Regions from separate parts of the Homo sapiens genome. Here region 2 is linked to region 1. A link means that fine-mapping ties the variant in region 1 to the expression of a gene that starts in the linked region. Tissue or cell type: blood mononuclear cells. Region 1 holds a variant in brackets; the other region holds the start of a gene. All regions are shown on one strand. Distances are between the middles of the regions.

What was found. PIP is the estimated chance that this variant, and not a neighbour inherited with it, causes the effect.
Region 2: it holds the start of MTR, and the variant in region 1 is fine-mapped to the expression of MTR in blood mononuclear cells (TOPMed, PIP above 0.99).

What each region holds. Positions count from the first base shown.
Region 1 is chr1:236,888,533-236,894,276 of GRCh38, reverse strand. MTR (5-methyltetrahydrofolate-homocysteine methyltransferase) reads right to left here. Exons shown (of 33, transcript NM_000254.3): 28 at 4,941-5,096; 29 at 2,948-3,144. Among named protein-coding and RNA genes, the nearest start is that of MTR, 96 kb to the right of the region's middle. The variant C/G (reference allele first, on the strand shown) is at 2,272.
Region 2 is chr1:236,792,899-236,797,770 of GRCh38, reverse strand. It overlaps MTR (5-methyltetrahydrofolate-homocysteine methyltransferase), which reads right to left and starts at 2,479. Exons shown (of 33, transcript NM_000254.3): 1 at 2,034-2,479. The coding sequence starts at 2,067. RefSeq lists enhancers at 1,874-2,063, 2,164-2,453.

The DNA.
Region 1 (5,744 bases):
GTATCGTCAAATGAGAATAAGCTTCACAACGCACAGATGGCAGCCTGTATTGTGCACTGTTACATCCCCAGTACTTGGAATTGTGTCTGACACATAGTGAGTATCCAATAAATATTTGTAAGATAAACAAATGAAATGAGATTTTTAAAAAATGTATGACATGACGTAACATAAATTGTCAAGACACCAGTTCACTGGCTCATTCACACACTGACCAAACATTTACTGAATGCCTTCAGGCACTGTGCTAAAGTCACGGTTTAAAAAAAAAAAAAAATTTGTCCCCAAGTGTTTTCAATTAAGTCCAGCACCATGTTCAAAAGAGATCCAATAAATGGAAGCGCCTCCACTCTCCATCAACAGCAGCAGCTCAAACAACAAACTGTTGGGGTCAGCGATGCCCAGGCCATGTGCTGCCTGCCATGTGGGGTGGGGTCAAGGGTCATACAGGAGCCGGCTGAGGACACCCAGGGCTGGCTGGGCACCAAACCAAGAATTCAGCAGGATTTGCTTCTGGATTTTCTCCACAGCCCTGGGGCCTACCCTCCCCCATTTTTCACCCTCAGCTCATAAGCAACTCTTCCCTGCAACTAAGGTAACAAATAAAGTCTTATACATATTAAAAAAATCAATAAATATTTGCTGAGAAGGTAAATAGCTTATAATACTCATTCAGTGGTTACTGTATGCCTGCTCTTGGTGCTTTATATGAATTACTATTTAACCCTCTCAACCACCTTGTGACATAGGTGATACCATCAGCTCCATTTTACAGACAAGAAATCAGGGGCATAGGAAGCTTGATCAACTGGCCCAAGGTCAGACAGTGGGAGGGGCCAGGGGGCTGGTACCACAACCCATGCGTCTACATATATGGTACTGCTCAGGACTGATCAATTAATCAATGAGTGGCCAACCCACACACTTCACAGCTCGTTGCCCGCCGTGGAAGCAAGTACAGCTTCATTGACACAGGGCAGGAAATTGTTAAGTACAGGCGAGGAGGTGTTTGGTAATGGCACACAGGAATGTCACAGAGCTCAGGGACAGCTGTGCATGGGGAAGCCGTTTTCCAGGTATACTCGGCCCATCAATTATTCTTTGCTAACAAAGGCCAGAGGGGGACCCAAAGCTTCCCTGCGCCACAGGAGAGAGAGATCACAGAGCCCCATGGTACCTTCGAAGAGACAGCAATCAGAGCCTACTCAGAAGAGCAGACTCCCAGAGTAATAAGGCACTGCCACCAGAATGTTCCAGAGTGCACTGGAGGAAAGCCCCTCCTGAGAAATTGCTACCTGGGTAGGTAATGTATGTGCCTGGCCCAGTTCCCCTCTCCAGAGGCTACTAAAAAGGTGAACTCTGAGAATTCATTCTATTAAATGCCCTAATATGTCACAGACTGCCCGGACATGAATGGTACTGAAAGTAAAAAGAGATCGCAGAGGACACAGGACTTGAAAGATGAAAGACTGGGCTAGAGCAGAGGTTTTTGAACAGTTATGTCTGTAAAAGAATAGCCACAAATTCCCTAGTGAGGAGGGGCTGGAACTTAACATTAGAACCCCAGTGCCTTATATTCTGTGGCGTCCGAGCCTGGGCGCATACAGTGAGGATTTACTGAGCCTAAGTGCATATGGTAAGGATGTAGCTGTCCTTGTTTAATTCTTCATGGTACTGCTGAAGGCCCCAAATTTAAGAATCCCTTCAGATGCTGTTATGGTAAAAATATGGATGATTATGAATTATATTGTGGTTGGGATTAAAATGCGCCACTATCTTTTTTGTTTGTTTTTTAGAGACAGGGTCTCACTCTGTTGCCCAGGTTGGAATACAGTGGCATGATCATGGCTTACTGCAGCCTCGATCTCCTAGGCTCAAGTGATCCTCCCGCCTCATCCTCCCGAGTAGCTGGCTGAAGAAGTACAGGCCTGCACTCCCCAGTGCACGGCTCATTTTTAAATTTGTTTTGTAGAGACAGGGTCTTGCCATCTTGCCGGGGCTAGTCTCAAACTCCTAGGCTCAAGCAATCCTCCCACCTTGGCCTCTCAAAGTGCTGGGATTACAGGTGTGAGCCACTGTGCCCAGCCAACATTATTATTTCTGAACGACTGAAAATGGCAGTAAAACAGAGTAATTTTCTGCAAATTATTAAATTTGTTAATGACTCTGGTGAATTCTGGTTCCAATTCTTGATTAAGACACTCTTTTTTACAGCAGCTAAAGGGACATGCATATGATATTTGCCTTTTCAAAGGTGGGGGGGATGAGAGA[C/G]AAGTTGCTGAGAAGAGTCTGTTCTCGTCACTCGAAAGAAAAAAAGCCAGCACAGTCAAAGAACGGCCACTGGGGATATGTACAGGCTGGGCTCTCCTCTCTATATTGGGGGGCCCAGCACAATCTCCATCATCCTTCATCTTCTCTGTAAAACACAAACTTAAACTGCCTCACACGGCTGTGTGGAAATTAAAAGCATGACCATCAAGCACCTTACTATGCACCTGGCACCTGGTATACATTCTGCAAATGTTTGTTTCCACCTGTCTTCCCCTTTCAAGGGAAGCCACCTGACAGTCTATTTTAATAATATGCATAGATATTAACCTACGTTTTTGAACAAGTGAGTGTTCTCTTTCTTCAGAAGCTAAGAAGACTGAGATCCTGACACGTGACCACCTGAGACAGCAGCAATGGTCCTCGCCCATCCATGGAACACAATATTAAACGCCTCACTCCTGCTGAGTGGTCCTGCCTCTGACACCCATGGTGGCGCCTTCTCTCCCTCGTCCTCACAGATGGCTTGGGCTTGGGCGTGTGACTGGTCACTTCTTGGGCATGTGATTGGTCATTTGGGAGGAGGTGAAGCAGACCCTCATTTATGCAAAGCTCTTTTGTGTAGTGCTTAAACTCACAAGCGAAAGCGGTGTGCTGGCTGTCAGTACACCTTCCATACCTGTTGCCTTAACCCATAGAAGGTGGCTATGGGCTCTGCAGCCTGGGGCACAGCAGCCTCTGCGTACAGGTGAATGTCGTCTTGGATACTCTGTGCTGGCCAGAACCCAACCACACCCCGGGCCCGGAGTTTCTTTTGACTAATCAGTGTGTTCAGCATATTGTGGGCATCATCGTAGACCTTCCTGGCCTCTCCACCTATTAGAAAAACAGAATTAGAATTCACTTAAAGATGCCAAAAATAACCATCAAACAATGCTTCTTTTAAAAGCCATTACCCCTCCTCAGTCACCTTCCCTCTTCAGGCTTCTCCATTTTCCTCAAATGCTTTCTGGTGTTTGCCACTGACCCAGCTTAAAGTGGAACAGCCAGGGCTTTGCGGCTCCTGCTAAGTGCAGCTCCCACAGTCTGCTTCTCCCAGTTCAAGCCACTCAAGTTTTCCACTGGACAAAAAGCAGAGAGCCAAAGCTGTGGCTCCCCAAAGCATTCTGTCAGAGAGGATGAGAAAGAGCAGGCCACATTCCTCACTGACATTCCTCGTGCACATACAACTCCACTGACTTTGCAGTGACCTCTGGGAGACGCGACCTGTGCCTCGTATTCCGTGGTGCTTTTAATCCCAACTACAATATAATTCGTAACGATTGACATTTTGACCGTAACAACCTCTGAAGGGATTCTTCAATTTGGGGCCTTCAACAGTACCATGAAGAGTTAAACAAGGACAGCTACATCCTCACCCTATGCACTCAGACTCGGTAAATCCTCACTGTATGCGTCCAGGCCCAGACACCACAGAATACAAAGCATGGTGAATATAAGGCACAGGCCCCGTCCCCCAGAGGTCGCTGTGAAGTCAGTGGAATTGTATGTGTACAGGGAACGTTAGTGGTAAGGGGTGAAGTGTGGCCCAAATCCTCACATGTGGCTTCAATGCTGCACCTGGGCTGGCCTGCTCCCGGACCTGCAGTGGGAGCCAGCCTCCGAGGACACCATCTCGGTTTCCGTGAGACTCGGCCACCCTGCCCATGGTGAGAAGCCTGTCCCACGGCCCCTGGACAGCTCACCTGTGATGATTCAGGGGCAGCACACTAAGAAGCCCCTTGCTCATCACCACGTTCCTGACTACCTGAGAGTTCCTGAGTCTCAGCATCCGAACACGCACACCCAGGCACGCCCCCCCGTGGGAAACTTGGCAAAAGGCTGGTTTCTAGGCTCCTCTCAGCCCTAATCCCATGCTTCTGTGAGTCTACCCCTCCCTGCTGCTCTGATCTGGCTACTACCTGATCCTTTGAATGGCTTTGCATTTGGATTCCGTGTCTCTGTCGGTGGATTCTGGGGTAAGGCTAGAAGTGAGAAGTGGGGGTAGTAATTTAACACCTCACTTACTTCTCTAGTTTATCACCCTAAATCCCCATTCCCTCCCCAATGCTCCAAGCACAATGGGCTCCTTGCAGTTCCCCAAATAGGCACATGTGCCTGTGCCTTCTCACACTGTCTCCTCTACCTGGAATGACCTTTTCTTCAACACCATATCACATCCACAGTCCCAGCCACGGCAACTCCCACTGAATCGTCAAAAACAGTTCGAACACCACCTTGTCCAGGAAGCCTGCCCTGACCTCCCAGTCTGAGCTCTATCTCCTCTTATGTCCACAGGAGCCCAGGCAGGGCCCATTACTATTGGATGTGCCAGCTAGTCAGGTGCTAGACAGCAGGGATTATATTGTCTTCCATTTATCCCTAGTGCTCAGCATGTAACTGATGTCAATAAACATTTATTGAAAGAATAAAGTAAATACCAAATTTAGTTGATGCAATAAGGACCAATCTAGCAGATTGAAAACCATTAAAAAGTTGGGCAGGTGAGCAATATGAAAGCAGCCGTAATCTGCACAATCCAAATCCACTGCTCCTCACCGATTCCGGTCTTCAAAGTCACAATCCCACAGCTTGAATATCAGAGGCAGAAAGGAAGGACTTACTGCACTAACCTACTGTTTTGTCGTTAAATATCTTGGGAAAGCCTCGATTCGGGTACTTGCCCCGGAGCTGCCAGACATCAAAGAAAGGCTTCCAGTCAATGTAGTCCACCAGCTTCTGCAGGTCATAGTCTTCAAAGACCTGGGTCCCAATAAACGTGGGCTTCACTACAGGAGAGAAGTATGGTTGTCAATGCTGACGCTGGCACCCTGCCTGATGGAGGCCTCCCTGCCAGCTCCTCACTGCTCTGCCAACTCCCACACTCCGCCTCCCTCCTGTCACCCGTAGGAGTTGTTTTACAAAGAGGGGAACTTTAAATTATCGTGGAGAAGGAGTAATTCTGCACTGAGTCTTAAATAAAACTATTCTTCACATGCAGCTGACTACACCACCCTTGGAAACTGTTCCCTCAACCCTTCCATCCCCACCCCCTGCCCAAGAAGGAAAGACAGACGGGTTAATCCTCACTTGCACAAATGAAGACAAGGTGAACATGAAGAACATGAAAGAACATGAAGAACATGTCCAGAAAGACATGGAGAGTAAGCTACTTATCTAAAGTTTCAAAACCGGAAACAATCATCTAGATTGTCTACTGACACATATGCTCAAAGTATAGGCAAATGAAGTCCCAAATTCAGGACTGCTGTGCTTTCTGCAGGGGAGGAAGGGACACATGTGGGACTTCCGATACATACTCCTCAATACATAATCCTCCACTCTGCCAAGCATGTGTGCAGCACAGATGTATGAGCAAGGAAAAGCTGATTTATTACCTTAGAAATATGGATTCAATTAATATAACCTCTGTTCAC
Region 2 (4,872 bases), 96 kb after region 1:
GCCAGGCTGGTCTCGAACTCCTGACCTCAGGTGACCCGCACGCCTCGGCCTCCCAAAGTGCTGGGATTACAGATATGAGCCACCGCGCCCAGCTTCTTTGGGGGCATCTCTTTGCTTGTGCAGTATTCCATTTTTAATATATATTATTTCCCCCTTTGATTTTAATAAGCCGGAGAAGAATTAGGCTGATACCAATTCACTGGATTATTCATTCCTTCATTAATCACTCATCAATTGATACCAATTCACTGGATTATTCATTCCTTCATTAATCACTCATCAATTGAGTTCCAAATAACACTCACAGTCCTAAGCAAGGATGAAACCAAGAAACTTTTAGAAGCTGTAGTTAAAATTTTCTCCCAAGATGTATTTGCTAGCCCACCATCCTCCTTCCCCAGGGCACACAACCATGGTCTGAAGTCACATTTAGTTTTAAGGCCCAACCTTGAGAATCAGGAATTCCCAGCTCTCCATTAAAATTTCATTAAGATTGTACGCCAGTAAATTACTAAGGGTTATTAGGAAGTTAAAACCTGATTCTAATCCCAATAAAAGTTGCTCACATAGACAGAAGCTGGACTACATCTAAGGTCTTTTCTAGGCACAATGGCCTGATTCAGAACTTCAGAGGCCCTAGACTTGGTTAAACTCCACTCAGTGCTCAACTCTAGAAGCCAGCCTTGGGGGTGAGGGGACTAGGCAAGATTCAAACATTCAACAATTTTCCTTTCAGTTTATTTTTTTTTTTTAAATCACTCACTATTCACAGTATTTTAAGTCTTCAGTGGCATTTTGCTCCTGATAATGACACCTAAATTCAGATGAAAGGGAAATAACTTTACTTGTTTAAATTAAATGGGAAGGGGGAGGCCAGAAATCATGAGTAAAAGATGTTTTCCAAATAAATATGATCTCCCTATGATCATTTATTCAATAAGATATAAATCTCTTATAGGGAGGTTTACATTTATTAATTAAATATTAAATATAAATAAGATGTAACCTCATTACATCTTATTTAATATATTAAATAACATATAAACCTCTCATAGGGAGGTTTATATCTTATTTAATAACAGCAGTGATGTGTTTCTCAGCCACAGTTCCACTAGTTTCAAGAACAATTATATCAGTCCCGTTATCAGAACCCAAGAATCAAGAGAGTCACCGGTTAACCTCTGATAAATTTCCTTGTGCGTTACGAATTTAGTATTCCCCCTCTTCCTGAAGCTAAACATCCCCACTATGTGATAGGATATTTACTGTTTTGTACTTATCACTAATTCTCGTTTCTACATCTCCTCACCCGTTTTTACGGGTGTATTTGTCCTCAAATTATAATCAGGCATGACCTTAGAGATCTAGAGCTCGTTATAAAGCTAACATTACGTTCAGTTCTCGTGCTAAACTAGCTTTTTCTCACTGTTGATCCCAGGGCCACCAACATCAGAATCGCTTGAAATTACTACCTCCCATTTCGGTATCTGGAGGTGGGGTCTGCTCATCTATTTTAACATAGTGAGTCTATGCATATTGCAGTTTTGCAGCAGCGTGCGTAGAAGCAGAAAATAAAAAGTTCCATGTAGTAGTTTTAAATAGTTCTCTGAGTTTCCTCGTCTGTCTCTCCGCGCCTGAACTTTCTTTCGCAGTAGGTGCGCAATACATATTTACGAATAAGCGTCACACCATGCAAAAAAAAAAACTTCCAGAGGGCCCAGCTGGTTTATGCTGCGTGGAACTGGAAAGTTTAGTTACTGTGACGTTAAGAATGTGTTTCGGGGGCGAGGGGAGGACGCTTTTTGCAGGTTTTGATGGCTTGCCTGGGGAGAAAGAGGTGAAGGTCGGACAAAGAGTGGAGCAAAACACGTAGCCCTCCGGGCTCCTGCGCTAAGTTCTAAAGGTGCCGCCCACACGCGGGGAAACACCGCCGGGCGTCTCCCGCCGCAGAAGGGAATCGCCCCAGGGATTAGGAGGCCACAGCACGAGTTAAGAAACACAACCCAACCACGCAGACGGGGTCGCAGCGTTACCGGGTTGCGACAGGTCTTGGAGCGCGGGTGACATGTTGTCGAGTCTCCTCCTTGCGCAGAGGGCGCGGCAGAGAAGACGTGCTCTCCACAGGTGACGACGGCCAAGGGCCACGCCAGCCAGCGCCAGGCGAGCCTGCCACACAAGGCCCGGGTCTTTTGACGCCTCCCGTTGGCTCGCGTCGCGGGGGGACTGCGGACCCCGAAAGCCCGCAGCGCCCTAGGGCCTCTCTCGGGGCTGGGCGCGGCAACTGCTGGAGCACGTGCTTTCTTCCCGGGTACCCGGCCAGTCCTTGGTGTCGGCCTAGCAGCCAGACACGCGCGGCCAGAGGCGGAGTCGCGGGACGGCACGGAAAAGGACCCAAGAGAAAACCGGCAGAGGAGGACGACGTGACATCCGGCTCTGAGCCCCGCAGACATTTAGAACCTTTCAGAGCGCGGTTAGTTCTGCGCTCAATCTATCCTCGGCGTGGGAGGTCCCGCCCCTTCCGGCCTGTGATTGGTCTGCCCGAGCTCCTCGCAGCCGCATTGGCTGTCAATATCAACCAATCACCTGCTGTTTAGCCCCGGGGCTCTCTGGGAGATGTAGTCCCGCTCCCCAGTTTCCCGCGGGAGCTTTTCGCGTCTCTGTGTGCCCAGGATCCGGAAGTGTAAGCCTAAGTGGCCCCTCTAAGGAAAAGTCACAGCGCCAAGTTCGTGCTGATCTCGACACGCTGTGTGGTGTCGAGCCTGAAATTTTAGTTCCGTTTTGCTGTTGACTTGCGCTGGGCAAGACAGTTAACCTCTCAGTCTCCACACTCTACAAACAAGAATGATAGGATGGTAGTAATTAGAATTTTTTAGGGTTGTAGTAGGCGTTAAATGAGATCGTTTGACCGCGCTATGAAAACTCTGAATTACCATATGGGGGTGTTAATTGTAACTTATTGACAGTAAACATATATTGAGCACCTACTATGTGTCAGGCATTGGGGCACACACTTGGAATGCAAAATCAGACAAGCTACATCGCACCCTCACGTCCTTGGAGGAGGAACTCACAACCTAGTTAGATTAATAATTGAACAGGGAAAAAAGAACCACATACATTTTAAAAGAGCTAGAGTATTCAAAGGGGCCAGGGAAAGGTTTCAAAGAAGAATCTGGGTCCTGAAGGAAGAGTGGTACCAGGTAAGGTTGTTCCAGTCAGGAGAAGCTCCCTGTGTACAACACAGCACTTTAGGGAATTCTAAAATAAAGGGCAGCTCTGTAAGGCCGAGCATGGTAGATGTGAGAAAAAGCAAATTCATCTAGAAAAATCTCTGTAAGGCTGAGCATGGTAGATGTAAGGAAAAGCAAATGCATCCAGAAAAATAAAAACTATAACCAAATTATGACATTTACTAAGCTTTAAAAAAGGCACAAATTTGCATGCCATTCTCATTTTATTGTATGTAATTATACCTCAATTTTGAAGATTTGAAAAATTATTATAATGCGTATCACATTCTTACCAAGACCATCTTACCAAAGATGGTCTTACTTGGAAGGTGGGGGGAATGGAGTAGGTGAGAGAGAATGCAACAAAGAAGGGAGGGAGGAATGAGATGGCCCTAAATAGCCAAAAATCTTAAGATTATAAGGGCTAGGGTGAGAGTAGGTGAGGGATAAACGACTACACATTGGGTGCAGTGTCCACTGCCTAGGTGATGGGTGCACCAAACTCTCAAATCACCACTAAAGAACTTATTCATGTAACCAAACACCACCTGCTCCCCAAAAACCTATTGAAATAAATAAGTTAAAAAAAAAGAAGAAGAAAAGGAGGAAAGAAAAAAAAGCAAGGTCTTCTATGCTGAACTTATTAAATTATTTATCCAGGCTTGATAAATCATGATGGTTTTCTCATATTTATTATTATGTTTATTCATTTCTCAACTCCTGAGTTTTTATCTGCAAAAAAAGAAGTAGTGAAATTTAACTGTGTAAAGATGCACCTGTCTAAAAAAAAAAAAAAAAGATTATAAGGGCTAGTTGTTTGTTTGTTTGAGACGGAGTCTCACTCTGTCGCACAGTCTGGAGCGCACTGGCACGATCTTGGCTCAGCTCACTGCAACCTCCGCCTCCCGGGTTGAAGCTAGTTTTTTAATTATCATGTATCCCTCAAAGTTTGTTGACGTGTTTCTTGAAAAATGATCTTTCAGGCACCTAGTCGGCAACTGTCCCCCATTCACATTCTCTTACTGGAAATTCCAGGAGTTGTGTGCCAGTCCCTGTTTGATGCAAGTCATCAAAGTTTACTCTCTCAGCTAAAACTGACCAAATTCTGTATTTCTTAAAGTCGTAAAAGAGTAACAAATAAGATTAGAGGAATACATAGTGCCTAAAGGGGCAGTGAATTTCTAGTACAAAAACGCGATTTACAGTTCCAAGAATACTGTATGGGTTGCAATGTGTCCCCCTCAAAGATATGTTGAAGCCCTAACTTCCAGTGCTTCAGAATATGACCCTATTTGGGCCGGGTGCAGTGGCTCACACCCGCAATCCCAGCACTTTGGGAGGCCGAGACTGGTGGATCGCTTGAGGCCAGGAGTTCGAGACCAGCCTGGGCAATATGGTGAAACCCCATCTCTGCTAAAAATACAAAAATTAACCAGGCGTGGTGGCTCACATCTGTAATCCCAGCACTTTGGGAGGCTGAGGTGGGCGGATCACCTGAGGTCGGGTGTTCGAGACCAGCCTGCCCAACATGGAGAAACGCCGTCTCTACTAAAAATACAAAATTAGCCGGGTGTGGTGGTGCATGCCTGTAATCCCAGCTATTCGAGAGGCCGAGGCAGGAGAATCACTTGAACCCGGGAGG